Linked DNA regions of Homo sapiens: region 2 is linked to region 1. The links come from fine-mapping of genetic effects on gene expression. A gene starts in region 1. The other region holds a variant in brackets. All regions are shown on one strand. Distances are from middle to middle.

The links. PIP is the estimated chance that this variant, and not a neighbour inherited with it, causes the effect.
Region 2: its variant is fine-mapped to the expression of SLC38A9 in whole blood (INTERVAL, PIP 0.95).

What each region holds. Positions count from the first base shown.
Region 1 is chr5:55,707,443-55,715,952 of GRCh38, forward strand. SLC38A9 (solute carrier family 38 member 9) reads right to left here and starts at 4,882. Exons shown (of 16, transcript NM_173514.4): 1 at 4,775-4,882; 2 at 4,010-4,057. RefSeq lists enhancers at 4,330-4,409, 4,980-5,029, 5,120-5,309, 5,145-5,788.
Region 2 is chr5:55,615,319-55,623,828 of GRCh38, forward strand. No RefSeq gene overlaps it. Among named protein-coding and RNA genes, the nearest start is that of PLPP1, 85 kb to the left of the region's middle. The variant T/C (reference allele first, on the strand shown) is at 3,808.

The DNA of each region.
Region 1 (8,510 bases):
GAAACCCTGTCTCTACTAAAAGTACAAAAATTAGCCAGCAGTGGTGGCACACACGTGTAGTCCCAGCTACCCGGGAGGCTGAGGCAGGAGAATTGCTTGAACCCAGGAGGCAGAGGTTGCAGAGCAAGACTCTGTCTCAAAACAAAACCCAGACATAATCACTTTTAACATCTCACTCAATCTCTGAGTTTTAAAACAAAGTCCCAGATGCAAGACCACTAAGTCAAATCTAAGTCATTAAATGAGTCTCTAATTGTTTAAGATTGGTTTTAATAAGGAGTCCAGCTATGATTTGAATGTTTGTGTCCCGTCCAAAATTCATATGTTGAAACTTAATTGCCAATGTTATAGTATTAACAGGTAGACCCTTTTGGAGGTAATTATGTCAGGAAGGCAGAACCCTTATGAATGGAGTTAGTAACCTTATGAAAAGTTTGAAGGGAACTAGCTAGATCCCTTTTGTCTTTCCATCCCTTCCCCCATGTGAGGACACAGCACCAAGGCACCATCTTGGAAGCAGAGACCGGGTCCTCACCAAACATCAAATCTGCAGGTGGCTTGATCTTGGACTTCCCAGCCTCCACAACTGCTAGAAATTAATTTCTATTGTTTATAAATTACCTAGCCTCAAGTATTTCATTAGAGCAGCACCAAGAGACTGAGATAGGTCCCAGTAGGGAATGAACAGCTTAGTTGACTTGCTTGGTACTTTCGACTTTTATTTAAAATGTTGGTGACTGAGCCAGGCATGGTGGCTCATGCCTGTAATCTCAGCTACTCGGGAGGCTGAGGTGAGAGAACTGCTTGAGCCCAGGAGTTCGAGATTGCAGCGAGCTACAATGGCACCACTGCATTCCAGCCCAGGTGACAGAGTGAGACTGTCTCTAAAAGAACAAAAAATGTTAGTGCCTGTACTGAAGCACTTCTCTCCGTAAAAAGGACATAGAGAGCAATCAAAGTAAACTGGTATGACATTATTTTAAAAAGGTATTGACTGTGATTATTGGCGTATCTCAAAGAATATCAGCCCTTTCCATACTAGGCTCAGAAATGTCTTTTCACAATTCTTTGCAAAAATAAATCTATAGAATCTATGCCAAGATGCTAGCATCAATCTGCAATAGAATACACTAGCTTGTGCCCAAATAAATGTGACTATGGACCCACATACAACTATTATATATGTTCTTTCTCAGAGACTAAAAATGAATATTACTGAATACTTTTGTGTATGTTATAGAGTTTCAGATACTACATTTATACTCAGTGTCCTAGGCTAGAGGTTGACATATTTTTTTCTGTAAAGGGTCAGATAATAAATATTTCAGGCTTTTTGAGCCATATAGTTTCTGCAGCTACTCAATTCTACCTGTTAGCATGAAAGGCAATTGAGTGTGCATGGCTGTGTTCCAATAGAACTTTATGAAAAAAATATATCTGTCAGCAGGCCAAATTTGGTCATAGTTTACTCACCTCTGTAGTATGCCAACATAAAAGCAAATGGAACCACACCACAAAAAAGTCACCCTGGTGGAAGCAGTTATGCTATGTATATATATTTTCTTCTGTATTAGTCTGTAACAGCTATAAACTCCAATAACAAACTTATCTAAATCTCTTCCTGATGAATCATTTACTGGTTAGCCAATAGGATCTATAATGCTCCTATTCTGATGTGACAGTTGGAACATGCTTCCAACCTGATCAATAAATGCTTCAAAAGGCGTTAAATTTGACAGTGCTGGAGGATAGTGTGGTCTCACAAAAAAATTACCAAAGCAACGCTGTGGTACCAAAGAATCTCTCCTTCTACAATGGGAACACTAAATGCTCTCAAGTTATATTTCAGTGGTAAGAAAGAAAAAAACCCTAGCAAACGACAGAAATTTAAGTATGTTACAAAATGCAGGCCTGGTAGACATTTTTAACCTCTAAGTGATTTTTTTTTTTTAACTTTTAAGCCCATATATACTTTTTAAAAAATACCATATAGGTCCAGTGTGGTGGCTCATGCCTGTAATCCCAATGCTTTGGGAGGCTGAAGCAAGAGGATTGCTTGAACCTAGGAGTTCAAGGTAACAGTTAGCTATGACAGTGCCACTGCACTAAAGCTTGAGTATCAGAGCAAAACTCTGCCCCTAACCCCAAAAAGAAAAAAAAAATACTAAACAATACTATTTCAATTTGTAGTTCAGGTTGGTATTCCATCCTCCTATGCTGAGTTTACCCTTTATTGTAAGTATTTAGAGTATTATAAAATCACAATTAAAAGCATATTATTTTATGTATGTAACTGAAATATATAGTATTTAAGATTGTGATTAGAAATCTAAGGCTAACTGGCTGGGCGTGTGTGGCACACGCCTGTAATCCCAGCACTTTGGGAGGCCGAGGCAGGCAGATCAAGAGGTCAGGAGATCAAGACCATCCTGGCCAACATGGTGAAACCCCATCTCTACCAAAACACACACAAAAAATTAGCCGGGTATGGTGGCGTGTGCCTGTAGTCCCAGCTACTTGGGAGGCTAAGGCAGGGGAATCGCTTGAACCCGGGAGGCAGGGGTTGCAGTGAGCTGAGATTGCGCCACTGCACTCCAGCCTGGCAACAGAGCAAGACTCCATCTCAAAAAAAAAAAAAAAAAAGAAAAAAAAAAGAAAAAGAAAAGAAAAGGAATCTAAGTCTAACTGTTCTCAGAAGTCTAGGGGAAGGAAAGGTAAATTTTATTTTCTTAGAAACAAAGCAACTATATAGGTGACAACTTTTTTTTTTTTTTTTTTAAGACAGGATCTCCCTCTGTGGCTCAGGCTGGAGTGCAGTGGTGCAGTCTTGGCTCACTGCAACCTCCGCCTGCCGGGCTCAAGCAATTCTCCTGCCTCAGCATCCCAAGTAGCTGGGATTACAGATGAGACGCATACCACCACACCTGGCTGATTTTTGTATTTTTAGTAGAGACAGGGTTTCACCATGTTCGCCAGGCTGGTCTTGAACTCCTAACCTCAAATGATCCGCCCACCTCAGCCTCCCAAAAGTGTTGGGATTACAGGCGTTAGCCACCGCAATCCGCCGAACCTTCTATCTTAACACGAAGTTTGTAGTTGTTTATGAGGCAGAGAGATTTTTCTCAAGTTAGGACATGGGTAATTTTGACCTATTGAAACTTTTTTTGTTTAGTTTTTGTTTTTGTTTTTTTTGAGACGGAGCCTCACTCTGTCACCAGGCTGGAGTGCGGTGGCACGATCTCAGCTCACTGCAACCTCCGCCTCCTGGGTTCAAGCGATTCTCCTGCCTCAGCCTCCTGAGTAGCTGGGACTGCAGGCATGTGCCACCACACCTGGCTAATTTTGGTATTTTTTTTTAGTAGAGACGGGGTTTCACCATATTGGCCAGGATAGTCTTGATCTCTTGACCTCGTGATCTGCCTGCCTCAGCCTCCCAAAGTGCTGGGATTACAGGCGTGAGCCACGGCACCTGGCCAAAACGTTTTTAAAAAATCTTTCTCCTCAGCAGCTGCCTATCCTACATATGTCAGATCTTTGTCATGTCTGAAGGTATTAAAAAGAAAAAAGAGGCTGGGCGCAGTGGCCCACGCCTGTAATCCCAGCACTTTGGGAGGCCAAGGCAGGCGGATCACTTGAGATCAGGAGTTCAAGACCAGCCTGGCCAACATGGTGAAACCCCGTTTCTACTAAAAATACAAAAATTAGCGGGGCGTGGTGGCGGGCAGCTGTAATCCTAGCTACTCAGGAGGGTGAGGCACGAGAATCGCTTGAACCAGGGAGGCGGAGGTTGCAGTGAGCCGAGATCACTCCACTGCACTCCAGCCTGGGCGACAGAGCGAGACTCTTGTCTGAAAAAAAAAAAGAAAGAAAAGAAAAGAAAAAAGAAAACAAGGTGGAGGTACAACTTACAACTTATAGTGTGCTCATCTACAGAGCACGGCAATGGATAAGACACTGCCTGGGAGTCATGACAATTAGGTGTTGGTCGAGTTTGCCATTAAATGGTTACCTGGTGTTGAGTAGGTTTCTCCAACTCGGTGGACCTCAGTTTCCTTCTCTGTAAAATGAGGAGAATGCGCTTGACTAGCTGCTCTCAAACCCCTCTTCCAGCTTTACTATGCTGAGATGTCAAGCTACCCACTATCAACACACTCACTCTCACAACTGAGTCGTGTGAAAAGCGTGGCGAGGGCTTACCAGTCATGGCCCTCACCCCCTCTGTGGTCCTAGCTCAAGGCCCAAAGGGGGTTCCTCCCTCATGTTCCCCCTCTAGATGTCCCCAACTCGGGATGGAGAAAGGTGCTCCCAGCCGTGATCGCGCCACCTCACTCAAGCCCAAGCGACGGAGCAAGACCCTATCTCAAGAGAGAGAAAGAAGGGTGCTCCCATTCCTGCAAGTCCCACAATTCTCCTACTCCCTCCTTCTCTCACCCGAGGGTCAGGGTGTTCATTTACCCCAACCCTATCTTTTCTCTAAGGCTCCAGCTGACACCGACTCCCATAGACACTCGGATTTCCTCAGACCCCGAGGGACTCCTGACTTTCTTTCCCTGAGCCCTTGAGGAGCGCGCGCCGTGCCTCCGGAGCAGTCTCCGCGGCTCCAGGCTATGGCCTCCCTGAGCCCCAAAAGAAGAGACGGTTCCGATGCGCTGCAAAGAACTATCCCAGGTGACAGCCGGCTTCGCCCCAACTTCAACCCTTCCCGCCGCCTTCCCTCGGATACCTTCCCACCTCCCCGAGGGGCGAGTTTGCTAGACGTGGGAACGTGATCTACCTGAGCAGGCCGAGCCTTCAACCTCGGAGAACTAGACGAGAAGATAAAGATTCCCTTCCCAAATTCTCGCAATTTGCGACCGCGGGGCTCCTAGTCCAAACAGGAAGCGGCAATAGCCTGGGTCGCAGGGGCCGGCGGGAGTTGGAGTTCTGAATGCGCCAAGCCCGCGGTCGCTGTCAAACCTCTCGCCGCTACGGACTACAACTCCCAGAGGGCTCTGCGACGGCCAGCACGCCCATCACCGCAGGGCCCAGCCCCGAGGCTTCAGGAGGCTGGGCAGCCGGCGCGCCCAGGTGGGCGAGTCCAGTCGGAACTGCAGCCCCGAGTTTGCTCCAGTTCCTTGTCCCGGCTGGAGGCTGGGAGGGGTAGTAGAAGGAATGCAATCTCTTGCCATTCATAGAGCCCCGGAGGCCACGTGAGAAAACGCTGATGCGGCACCTCCATCGAGGGATCACCCCTCTTTTGGGCTTTCCTGGCGCGTGTTGTATGATCTGGTTACGTCCTTGGACCCTACAGACACAAAGGGAAGCTGGTTTGAAAAAACTGTTGAGTTGGCATGCTCCCTCCGTCGTCTAGATATTTGGGTTTGTTTTTTAAAAATGTGTTTGCAAATTAGTCTCTAGGCTAAAAGGGGCTTTAGAAGGATTTTAGAGGCCCACCCCACATACCCAGCAATTTTCCCCAAAACCTCCCCAAGTAAACATACAGTCTAAGTAAAATTAATGTGCTTGTTATGAAAATCAGTTCAAGGTCAGTCCCTGAAAAGCATATGGCCACCCTAAGCTCTTCTTACAAAGGAAGCCAGTGGCTCTTTTTGTTTCTTTTTCTTTTTTCTGTTTAAACCAGAAGAAACAGTGTCTGTAATGCCAGAAAAAAAACTAAAAATTTAGACCGGCTCCGTGGCTTATGCCTGTAATCTCACCATTTTGAGAGGCTGAGGTGGGAGAATCACTTGAGGCCAGGAGTTGGAGACCAGTCTGGGCAACATAGGGAGACCCCATTTCTACAAAAGAATTTAAAAAATTAACTGGGCAGGGTGGCACCTGCCTGTAGTCAAGCTTACTTGGGATGCTGAGGCAGGAGGATCATTTGAGGCCAGGAGTTAAGGCTGCAGTGAGCTATGATGGTGCCACTGCACTGCAGCCTGGGTGACAGAGCAAGACCCTGTCTCAAAAACAAAACGAAACAAAACAAAAAACCTAAACTTGAAAATTCAAATTTAGGCTGGGTGCGATGGCTCACACCTGTAATTGCAGCACTTTGGGAGGCTGAGGAGGGCAGATCACAAGGTCAGGAGTTTGAGACCAGCCTGACCAACATGGTGAAACCCGTCTCTGCTAAAAATACAAAAATTAGCCAGGCGTGGTGGTGTGCACCTGTAATCCCAGCTACTCTGGAGGCTGAGGCAGGAGAATCGCTTGAATCCGGTAGGCGGAGGTTGCAATGAGCTAAGATTGTGCCACTGCACTCCAGCATGGGCGACAGAGCGAGACTCAGTCTCTAAAATAAAATAAAATAAAAATTCAAATTTAACAAATAGCTAACATTGAATGCCAAGAATTTTACGTGTATATCTTTTTAAGTCTTTACCACAGTTCTGGAAATGATAATATCTCTTTAAGTCTTTATCACAGCTCTAGAAATGTATATTTTTCCTGTCTTACAGAAAAGGAAATAGTCCCAGAGAATTTAAGTGCCTTGTACAAGGCTAAACAACTACTAAGTGGCAGAAGATCTGGAATTCATACTAAGATCTTATCCCAAAGCCTGCGTGCTCTCAAACATTGCGTCTATTATGGAGGGCTTGACAAATGCAAGGCAAACGATTTAATGAATGTTGTCTTTAAGGGAGATAAAAGTTGTTTTGCTGATGGTATTCTTGTTCAAAAACTTTTTTAACTGTTCATTGGCCCTGCCTTCAAGTCAGGGCTGGTCAAGTAACACAAGTCAGTAATACATTCTTTTGATAGTTTCAGTGATAGCAACCTTTCTTTTTTTTCTGCATTCCAGGCTGAGAAAATAATTTCAAGCAAGGCTGGGAAACACAAAAGTAAATAGTATGAAATGATGTCAGCAAAAAATGGGAAAAAAGTAGGGAACTCAAAAATGAATAAGCTGGCAAAACTGTCAGGAGCACCTTTTTTGGAAACTCTGAAACTGATAAAAAAAACTCACAAAATCCAGGGGAACATGTAATGAAGAAAAAACTGCTGAATTTTGGTAAGAGAGTTCTGTGGTCATCTTCTATTCTCCAAGTTGTCAGTGGCCTTGAAGATGGCAGCCACATTCCTGGTGTGGGTTGCTGGCACCAGAGGGAGCACTATGGACCTTATCCTCAAGGAATTGTAGGTGTGTTTTGACCTCCCTGATGGTTTCCTGAAGGTTCAACTCAACGGCTTGCCTTTGTTTCACCTGCCTCAGAGCTTCCTCAGGGCTCAGGCAGCTTCCCAGGCAGTGTTTGTCAAAAACATTAAAGGCAAACAGCCAGTGTCACAGAAAGCAAGGTATGAAAGCCAGGACAAGCAATAAACAGACCAAAAATCCTGGGAAGGAAGAGGCTGGAGAAGGAGATAGTTGGGGGAATAAAGGCTTTGGAAAGCTTCATTTTATTCTGGGGAATCTAGAAGGCCATCGGCATGCCCTGGTCTGGATGCATACTCAGAGAAAAACCTAAGAACACCGTAAACTCTCACCTCTGACTGACCGTCAGCTTTCATGCAAGCAGGAAGTGAAGGCTAAGGTGGCGTTGTAAACTACCTCGTTAAGCATTGAAGGGGTGCCAGAACACATAGCTAACTGGCAAAGACTGGGAGTGTTTTCTCGCATTTTGGGCTTTTATCTTTTTATTTTTTGGTTTGAGACATTTAATAAAAGAAATAAACAACAACAAACTCTGGTGGGGAGTGGGAGAAGCAGATGTCCATAATTACCATATTATATACAAAATGTCCAGTTGTCAACAAGAAAAAATTATGAGGCATGCAAAGAAAAAAAGTATGGCTTATTTATAAGGAAAACATTTTTAAAGAACATTCCTTTGGGAAGCCCAGACATTGTCAACTGTCTTCAATATGCTCAAAGAACAAAGAAAATAATAGACAATAACTAAAGGAAACCAGGAAAAGTGAATTGTTCAATAAATAGAGGATACTATTAAAGAGGTAGAAATTATAAAAAGAAAGCAAATAGAGTTGCTGGAGTTGAAAAGCACAATAATTGAAATATAATGTTCACTGGAGGGGTTCAATAGCAGATTTGAGCAGGCAGAAGAAAGATTGGGGAATTTGAAGATACATCAAGAGTATACAGTTTGAGGAACAGAAAGAAAAAATAAGAAAAATGAACAAGACCTGTAAGGATTGTGGGACACTATCAAACAAACATTTGCACAGTGGGAATTCCAAAAGGAGAGGAGAAAATAAAGGAGTGTAAAGAATATTTGAAGAAATAATAGCTGAAAAATTACCAAATTTAATGAAAGACAGGCGTCTACACATCTAAGAAGCTCAATGAACTTCAGGGCGGATAAATTGAAAGGGATCGACACCAAGACAAATTGTGATTAAATTGTTAAAAGACAAAAACAGAGAATTTTGACAACAGCAAGAGAGAAATGACTGGTCATGTATAAGGAATCTTCATTAAGATTAACAGTAGGCTTATCATCAGAAACCATGGAGCTCAGAAAGCAGTGGAATGACGTAAGTGCTGCGAATAAAAGCCAAAAAAGAATCCT
Region 2 (8,510 bases), 92 kb before region 1:
CTTTTCTCCGAGAGGATGGAGAACCAATCAAGCATGACTGCCAACAAATTATAGTCCAGACTTATGCCACCGGAGAGGATCTCTTAGAAGTCCCCTTAGCTAATCCTAATCTTATATACCGATGGAAGTTGATTTGTGGATAATCGGATACGGAAGGCAGGTTATGCCATAGTTAGTGATGTTATGCCATAGTTAGTAATGTAACAGTACTCAAAAGTAAGCCTCTTCCCCGAGGAACCAGTGCCTAGTTAGCAGAACTAGTGGCACTTACCTGAGCCTTAGAACTGGGAAAGGGAAAAAGGATAAATGTGTATACAGATAGCAAGTATGCTTATCTAATCCTACGTGCCCATGCTGCAATATGGAAAAGGAATTCCTAACATCTGGGGGAACCTCCGTTAAATACCACAAGGAAATCATGAAGCTGTTGCATGCAGTGCAAAAACCCAAGGAGCTGGCAGTCTTACACTGCCAAAGCCATCAAAAAGGTGAAGAAGAAAAGGCAGAAGGAAACCATCGGGCAGATGCTGAGGCCAAAATTGCTGCCAGGCAGAACCTCCCATCGGAAATACCTACGGAAGGACCCTTGGTATAGAACAACCCTCTCCAACAGATTAAGCCCCAGTATTCCCGACTGAAACAGAATGGGGACTTTCACGGGGGCATAGTTGTCTCCCCTCGGGGTGCTTAACGACAGAGAGACAAAGAGGGAGTCAGAGAGAGAGAGAGAGAGAGAGGGCAAAAACAGAAAGTCAAAGAGAATGGGGGGGAGGACAGAAAGTCAAAGAGAGAAGGAAAGAGAGGAAGAGACAGAGACAAAGAGGAAGTCAGAGAGAAAGAGAGAGACAGACAAGGAGTCAGAGAGAGAGAAAGAGAGATAGAAGTAGTAAAGAAAAAACAGTGTACCCTATTCCTTTAAAAGCCAGGGTAAATTTAAAACCTATAATTGATAATTGAATGTCTTCTCCATGACACTCCATAACACTCCATTACCACCTTGTTGTCAGTGTAAACAAGGGCGTAGCCCAAAAACACTGAGGCACTGACAGCCCATAGCCTTCCTATCAAAAATCCTTAACCCAGCAGGTTTCCTAACAGGGGATCTAAATCTTAGTTAATTACTATACAAAGGTCCGACCAGACTTAGGAAGAACTCCCTTCAGGACAGGAAGATAGATGGTTCCTCTCAGGCAATTAAGGGAAAAAGACACAATGGGTATTCAGTAAGTGATAAGGAAACTCTTGTAAAAGCAGAGTTAGGAAAATTGCCTAATAATTGATCTGCTCAAACACGCAAGCTGTTTGCCCTCAGCTAAACCTTAAAGTACTTACAGAATCAGGAAGGAGCCATCTATACCAATTTTAAGTTAATATGGACTGAATGAGGTCTTATTAATAGCAAAGAATAATTGATATCCCAAACTTACAAGGTTTTCAACAGAAGTAAAGTTTGCTAAAAGTTAACAGTATAAAATGTGTTATCCTAACTTCAAAGCTTGTGGAAATCAGACCCTATCAGTACCCCTCAAAGCTCAAGTCAGTTAGCACAGAGCCATACAACTAATACCCCTACTTAAAGGGTTAGGAATGGCCACTGCTACAGGAACCAGAATAGCCAGTTTATCTACTTCACTATCCTACTACCACACACTCTCAAAAGATTTCTGACAGTTTACAAGAAATAACAAAATCTATCCTTACTCTACAATCCCAAATAGACTCTTTGGCAGCAGTAACTCTCCAAAACCGCCAAGGCCTAGACCTCCTCACTGCTGAGAAAGGAGGACTGTGCACCTTCTTAGGGGAAGAGTGTTGCTTTTACACTAACCAGTCAGGGATAGTATGAGACACTGCCTGGCATTTACAGGAAAAGGCTTCTGAATCAGACAACACCTTTCAAACTCTTATACCAACCTCTGGAGTTGGGCAACATGGCTTCTCCCCTTTCTAGGTCCCGTGACAGCCATCTTGCTATTACTCACCTTCGGGCCCTGTATTTTTAACCTGCTTGTCAAATTTGTTTCCTCCAGGATGGAGGCCATCAAGCTACAGATGGTCTTACAAATGGAACCCCAAATGAGCTCAACTCAAAACTTCTACTGAGGACCCCTGGATCTTTGACTGGCCTAGAGAGTTCCCCTCTGGAGGACACTACCACTGCAGGGCCCCTTCTTCGCCCCTATCCAGCAGAAGTAGCTAGAGTGGTCATTGCCCAATTCCCAACAGTAGTTGGGGTGTCATGTTTAGAGGGGGGATTGAGAGGTGAAGCCAGCTGGACTTCTGGGTCAGGAGGGGGACTTGAAGAACTTTTCTGTAGCTAGCTAGAGGTTTGTAAAATGGACCAATCAGCACCCTGTAAAATGGACCAATCAGTGCTCTGTAAAATGGACCAATCAGCAGGACATGGATGGGGACAAATAAGGGAATAAAAGCTGGCCGCCCCAGTCAGCAGCGGCAACCTGCTTGGGTCCCCTTTCACGCTGTGGAAGCTTTGTTCTTTGGCTCTTCACAATAAATCTGCTCACTCTGGATCTGTGCAACCTTTAAGAGCTGTAATGCTCACCGCAAAGGTCCGCACCTTCATTCTTGAAGTCAGCGAGACCAAGAACCCACTGGAAGGAACCAACTCTGGATGCAGGACTGCAGACACATGCCACCATGCCTGGCAAATTTTTTAATTTTTAGGAGAGATGAGGTCTTGATATGTTGCCCAAGCTGGTCTTGAACTCCTGGGCTCAAGTGATCCTCCTGCCTTGGCCTCTCAAAGTGTTAGGATTACAGATGTGAGCCACCATGTTCAGCCCTGTGCCTATTTTTCTACTGGGGCACTGAAGGATTTTACAGAGAAAGGCATAGTCAGTTTCATATTAATTAAAGATAACTCTGGCAGCACTAGAAATGATGGCTCTATCTTTGCATTTCCAACTCTAGGACAATGAGTAAAAGTTTACTGCATTGGATTGGGCTTTAATCTATCTGCAATAAAGGTTTTATATATAATACAGCACCGAGGAGTGATAAAATTATTTATGTGAATTAAGTCTTAGTTTCCTCTCCTCAAGGAGTGTCATAAATTTCTAATTTAGTTTCTAAAAAAAACTTAACATTAATCCTTTAAAGCTGGGCACTTTCGTGCAGTAGAATTAGATCCTTTCTGGAACAAGGTGGAGTATAAAGAAATGTTGCCTTACTCTAATGTTGCTCTTGGTTGTTTGTTTTATGCGTCAAGAGCCCTTAAAAGGTTCCTCATCGCTAAGATAGACTAATACTAGAAACTCTTTGAAAATTAAACCGTTCTTTGAATTCTTCAATATTGCTGAAAGTATCTCTTAAAAGACCCATACCCAGGTAAAAACTTTCCAATCTAAAAAAGAAAAATGTCCTACTTTGATCTCAACCATTACTGAATTTGTATCCCATGCTATTTTGCTAAATCCAATTTAACTGTTCCAGAAATAATGCTTAGGTTTGGTAAAAGTTGCAGTTCTTAAAGGTAGTGGAGAAACTCAGAGCTTGACATAATCAAACAAGGTGACTGAAACATTTCTTCTTATTCCTCCTTCTAACATTCCTTCCAGTTGCCCCTGCGCAGAGTGGTTTGTGGATGGTTTGCCTTAAAGCTGCTGTCAAGGCTCCTCACTTGCATGGGCTCCTTTTTTTTTTTTTTTTTTTAAACGGAGTCTCACTCTTGTTGCCCAGGCTGGAGTGTAGTGGTGCGATCTCAGCTCACTGCAACGTCTGCCTCCTGGGTTCAAGCGATTCTCCTGCCTCAACTTCCTGAATAGCAGGGATTACAGGCACCCGCCA[T/C]CATCCATGCCTGGCTAATTTTTGTATTTTTAATAGAGTCTGGGTTTTGCCATGTTGGCCAGGCTGGTCTTGAACTCCTGACCTCAGCTGATCCGCCCGCCTTGGCCTCCCAAAGTGCTGGGATTACAGGTGTGAGCCACTGCACCCGGTCGGCCTCCTTTCTAATTTGGGACTCCTAATGTTGTGTATCTCCTTAAAGAGATAACTCCAAACTGTATAAGCCTCAGGCCCCACAAAACCTGAATCTACCCCTTTCACCAAGGATCTTTCTCACCTATCCTAAAGGTTCTCCGTCGGTAGGTTCTTGATTTAATGGGTTGACTGTAGCTATATTTCTACAAGTCTTCTTTTCCATGATTTATCTTAGACAGACATCTTTTTAGAAAAATCTGTTAAATAATAAAGTAATAACATAAATGAGTCACTTAGAATCCCCCATAAAACGTCATTCATGTTCATTCTGTGACCACATAACCTTATGTGATTATCATTAACCTAGGTTTTTTGTTGTCGTTTTTTTTTTTTGCTCTGTCACCCAAGCTGGAGTGCAGTAGTACAATCACAGCTCATTGCAGCCTTGAACTCCTGGCCTCAAGCGATCCTCTCGCTTTGGCCTCCTAAGTAGCTAGGACTACAGGCAAGTGTGTCACCATGCCTGGTTAACTTTCTGTTATTATTTTCAGAGACAGCGTCTCATTATGTTGCACAAGCTGGTCTCAAACTCCTGGCCTCAAGTGATCCTCCCACCTCAGCCTCCTGAGTACCTGGGATTACAAGTGCAAGCTACGGCACCCAGCTCTAACTTTTTAAAAGCAGTTTTATTTTGATAAAAATGATTCACTTTACAGAGACCTACTTACTGCAACATTGTCCTATATTCTTCTCTTCAAAACATGTGTATGATGTGGCCACAGCACAGCATTCAGTTGAGACAGGCAGCAGGAAGGGGCAATAGCCTGGCATTTCGGTGACACCTGGAAGGATGACCTGGTTGTTGATGCCTAGAGGTTGGTGAGGGATATTAAAGTGTCAGAGCCACATCTGGCTTGTTCACCACTGTATGCTCAGTGCTTAGCATAAGGTCTGGCAACCAGTCAGTACTTAGTTATTGACTGAATGACTAATATTGAACCTGCTGACCCCAATTTTATTTTGTAATGGTTTTGGGGCTATGGAACAACATCCTAGATAATAGCAATTACCTTATTATTTTCCATAAAGAATCCTGACTAGTTAATTAATTGATTAAACAAGTGTATATTGAGTGCCTACTATGACCAAACAATAGGATCACTTGGGATTGAGAGAGAGCCAAAGGAGGAAAAATCTGGAGTGTGAGCAATTTCCCATCCCCATCGCAGGCCTGTACTTTATGGCCTGAGATAAGTAAGAATGGCCAGGCGCAGTGGCTCAGGCCTGTAATCCCAGCACTCCGCAAAGCTGAGCTGGGGTGGGTCACTTGAGGTCAGGAGTTTGAGAGAGACCAGCCTGGCCAACATGGCAAAACCCCGTCTCTACTGAAAACACAAAAATTAGCTGGTTGTGGTGGCTGGCTCCTGTTATTCCATCTACTTGGGAGGCTGAAGCAGGAGAATTGCTTAAACTCGGGAGGTGGAAGTTGCAGTGAGCCAAGATTGCACCACTGTACTCCAGCCTGGGTAACAGAGCGAGACTCCATCTCAAAAGAGAATAGAGAAGTTGAAAAAGACATAGCCTTATTTTATTTTTGCCGAAGAGATGGAACATAAAAATAATACTGGGGAAGAAGTAATAGTACTTAGAGAAGGGGGAAAATTAGAGCCCTCTATTGGCTTAAGTGGCTCTGGAGGATTAGGACATCAAGCTCTTCCAGGAACTAGGCTCTACTTAACATTCATCGGAAATATTCTTAGAGGGAGAGGTCACAACAGTATATTGTCCTAAAGATATAGTCATTTTAGGTTTCAGTTAACATAATGTAATGCCTTTCTTTAGGATCAGAACACTTTGCGGGGCTCCTTGGGGCCTGATGTGAGGCACAGGGGCAAAGTCACTTGAGAAGTTTGACCCGGCGAAAGATGGAACCCAGCTTCTTCCTGACCTTGGGGCCAGTGCTACCAAGCAATAATATTTCCCAGCAAAATTCAATTAAACAAAATCCCAGAGTTGTTTTCCTTCAAATTATCTTTGATTTAATTTCTTCTTTTATATAAAAGACAACAAATTACATTTCAGAGAACAATGTTTAGGTTATAAGGTTCCCGTCAGAGCTGTTTCACAACACGTGTTTACATAATCTGAAGTGAAGGCAGCAGTGGACTGTAAAACCGGCCAGCCAGGCCAGTTTGTGTGCATCTAGGGGATTAATTTCACTTTGGGTCACAAACTAATGTAACATTCTACTGTTTAGGTGTCAACTAGATTTGGATTTGGTTTTGGATATTCTAATGGGGATGAAATTGAGTTTAGAAAAAACAAAAACCACCACCACCAGATTCTAAAAAGCAATTAGGTCAGTGCTTTGTAAAGAAAACATACAACATCAATATTTTCTGCTCTTATCAATGAGTTCAAACATTTGACACTTTGAATACTGATATTTAAATAAGTCAAATCTTTGGTGAGAAAAACTTATGCATTTTTCTGTTTGTACCACCCAATGTGTTACTAATTATTTGCCCTATTAATCCATTGTGCTTTGCTGTCCAAGATTAACAGAATAATGCAATGTGTTCAAAATGCAAAGAGAATAAATAGCATACAGAAGCATTAAACAAGTCGCAGAAAACTTATCTTAGAGGAAATTTACCAAACTAAAAGCGAATACATTTAACCTATATGATTGCATTTGCTGGTGAAGGTACCAAATATTAAATTTTGGACAGTTATGAGGAGGAACCTGAAAATGGGTCGTTGCTGCTTGACCTCTCGGCTTCTTTTATCAACCCTCCTCAAGGCTCCCAACTGAAAGGGATCTGTTTCTCTAATAGTCCTCAGTATAAATTGCTTTGCATCATAGTTAATTATATACACAGTTCCTTTACTAGATTAAAAGTTCATTTCAGATATGAATGATGTCTTATACATCTTTATCTCCTCCAAAGCACTGGACAGAAAAGTCTTTTACTTCTATAGTTAGTAGCTGCATTGCATTTGCAAAATATACTTAATATAAATAAAGTATTTCCCTTTAATATAGTCCCCTTTTATGAATAAATTTATTCCTTACATCAAAGCATTTTTTGGGTGTGATAATAAAATTGATTTTGGATGATCACCCACAGGTGTCAAACTTAATTTTCTTTGTCCTTTCTGGCTATTAGCATACCACATATTCATATATAGACTTTCTAAGGAAGACCCCTCTAAATAATCCATATTTTACTTAATAATATCCTCAGTTGTATGTTAAGCTAAATTCAAGAGTTAAGCATGAGAGCAAAAAGTGAAAGAAATTCAATTAGAAAATTCAAAGAGATGACAGCAGACAAAGAAGGTCTAAAATTAGTTGAGATATGAATGACTTCATATCTCATCATTCTAATGTGTGGGCCAGGATATACACACTTACAAAGAGTTCTCTGACCAAGCCAAATAATAGGCCAAAGAGTTGATCTCATGAAAAAAAAACTTAAGAAGGCAAAGTCATACAGCGTAAGTCTAATACAAGATTTTAGAAGTTCTAAATTATCGAGTCTTTTTTTCTTTTTTTTGAGATGGAGTTTCACTCTTGTTGCCCAGGCTGGAGTGCAATGGCACGATCTCAGCTCACTGCAACCTCTGCCTCCCGGGTTCAAGCGATTCTCCTGCCTCAGCCTACTGAGTACCTGGGATTATAGGCACACGCCACCACGCCCGGCTAATTTTGTATTTTTAGTGGAGATGGGGGTTTCTCCATGTTGGTCAGGCTAGTCTCAAACTCCCGACCTCAGGTGATCTGCCTGCCTCGGCCTCCCAAAGTGCTGGGATTACAGGTGTGAGCCACCACACCCAGCCAATTATTTTTTTCTTTAATTAAAAAAATTGTTTTTTTGAGACAGGGTCTTACTCTGTTGCTCAGGCCGGAGTACAGTGGCACAATCAGGGCTCATTGATGTCCTGGGCTCAAGCAATCCTCTCACCTCAGCTTCCTGGGTACCTGGGACTACAGCTGCATGACACTGTGCCCAGCTAATTTTTTTTAAATTTATTTTTTTGTAGAGACAGGGTCTCACTATGTTGTCCTGGCTGGTCTTGAACTCCTGGGCTCAAGTGATCCTCCCACCTCAGTCTTCCAAGAGCTGGGATCACAGCTGTGCCCACATCAAGTCTTTTCGTTTTGTTTTGTTTTTTGAGATGGAATTTCGCTTTTGTCACCCAGGCTGGAGTGCAGTGGCGTGATCTTGGCTCACTGCAACCTCCGCCTCCTGGGTTCAAGCAATTCTCCTGCCTCAGCCTCCTGAGTAGCTGGGATTACAGGTGCACGCCACCACGCCCAACTAATTCTTGTATTTTTAGTAAAGACGGGGTTTCACTGTGTTGGCGAGGCTGAGTCTTGAACTCCTGGCCTCATGTGATCCGCCCACCTTGGCCTCCTAAAGTGCTGGGATTACAGGCATGAGCCACCATGCCCGGCCTCACATCAAGTCTTTTAAAGAAACAATAGCAAAGATTCACATTGTCTTTTAGTTTAGTAAATACCTCATTCATTGTCATATTCACTTAGTTCATTAAATGGACAAAAA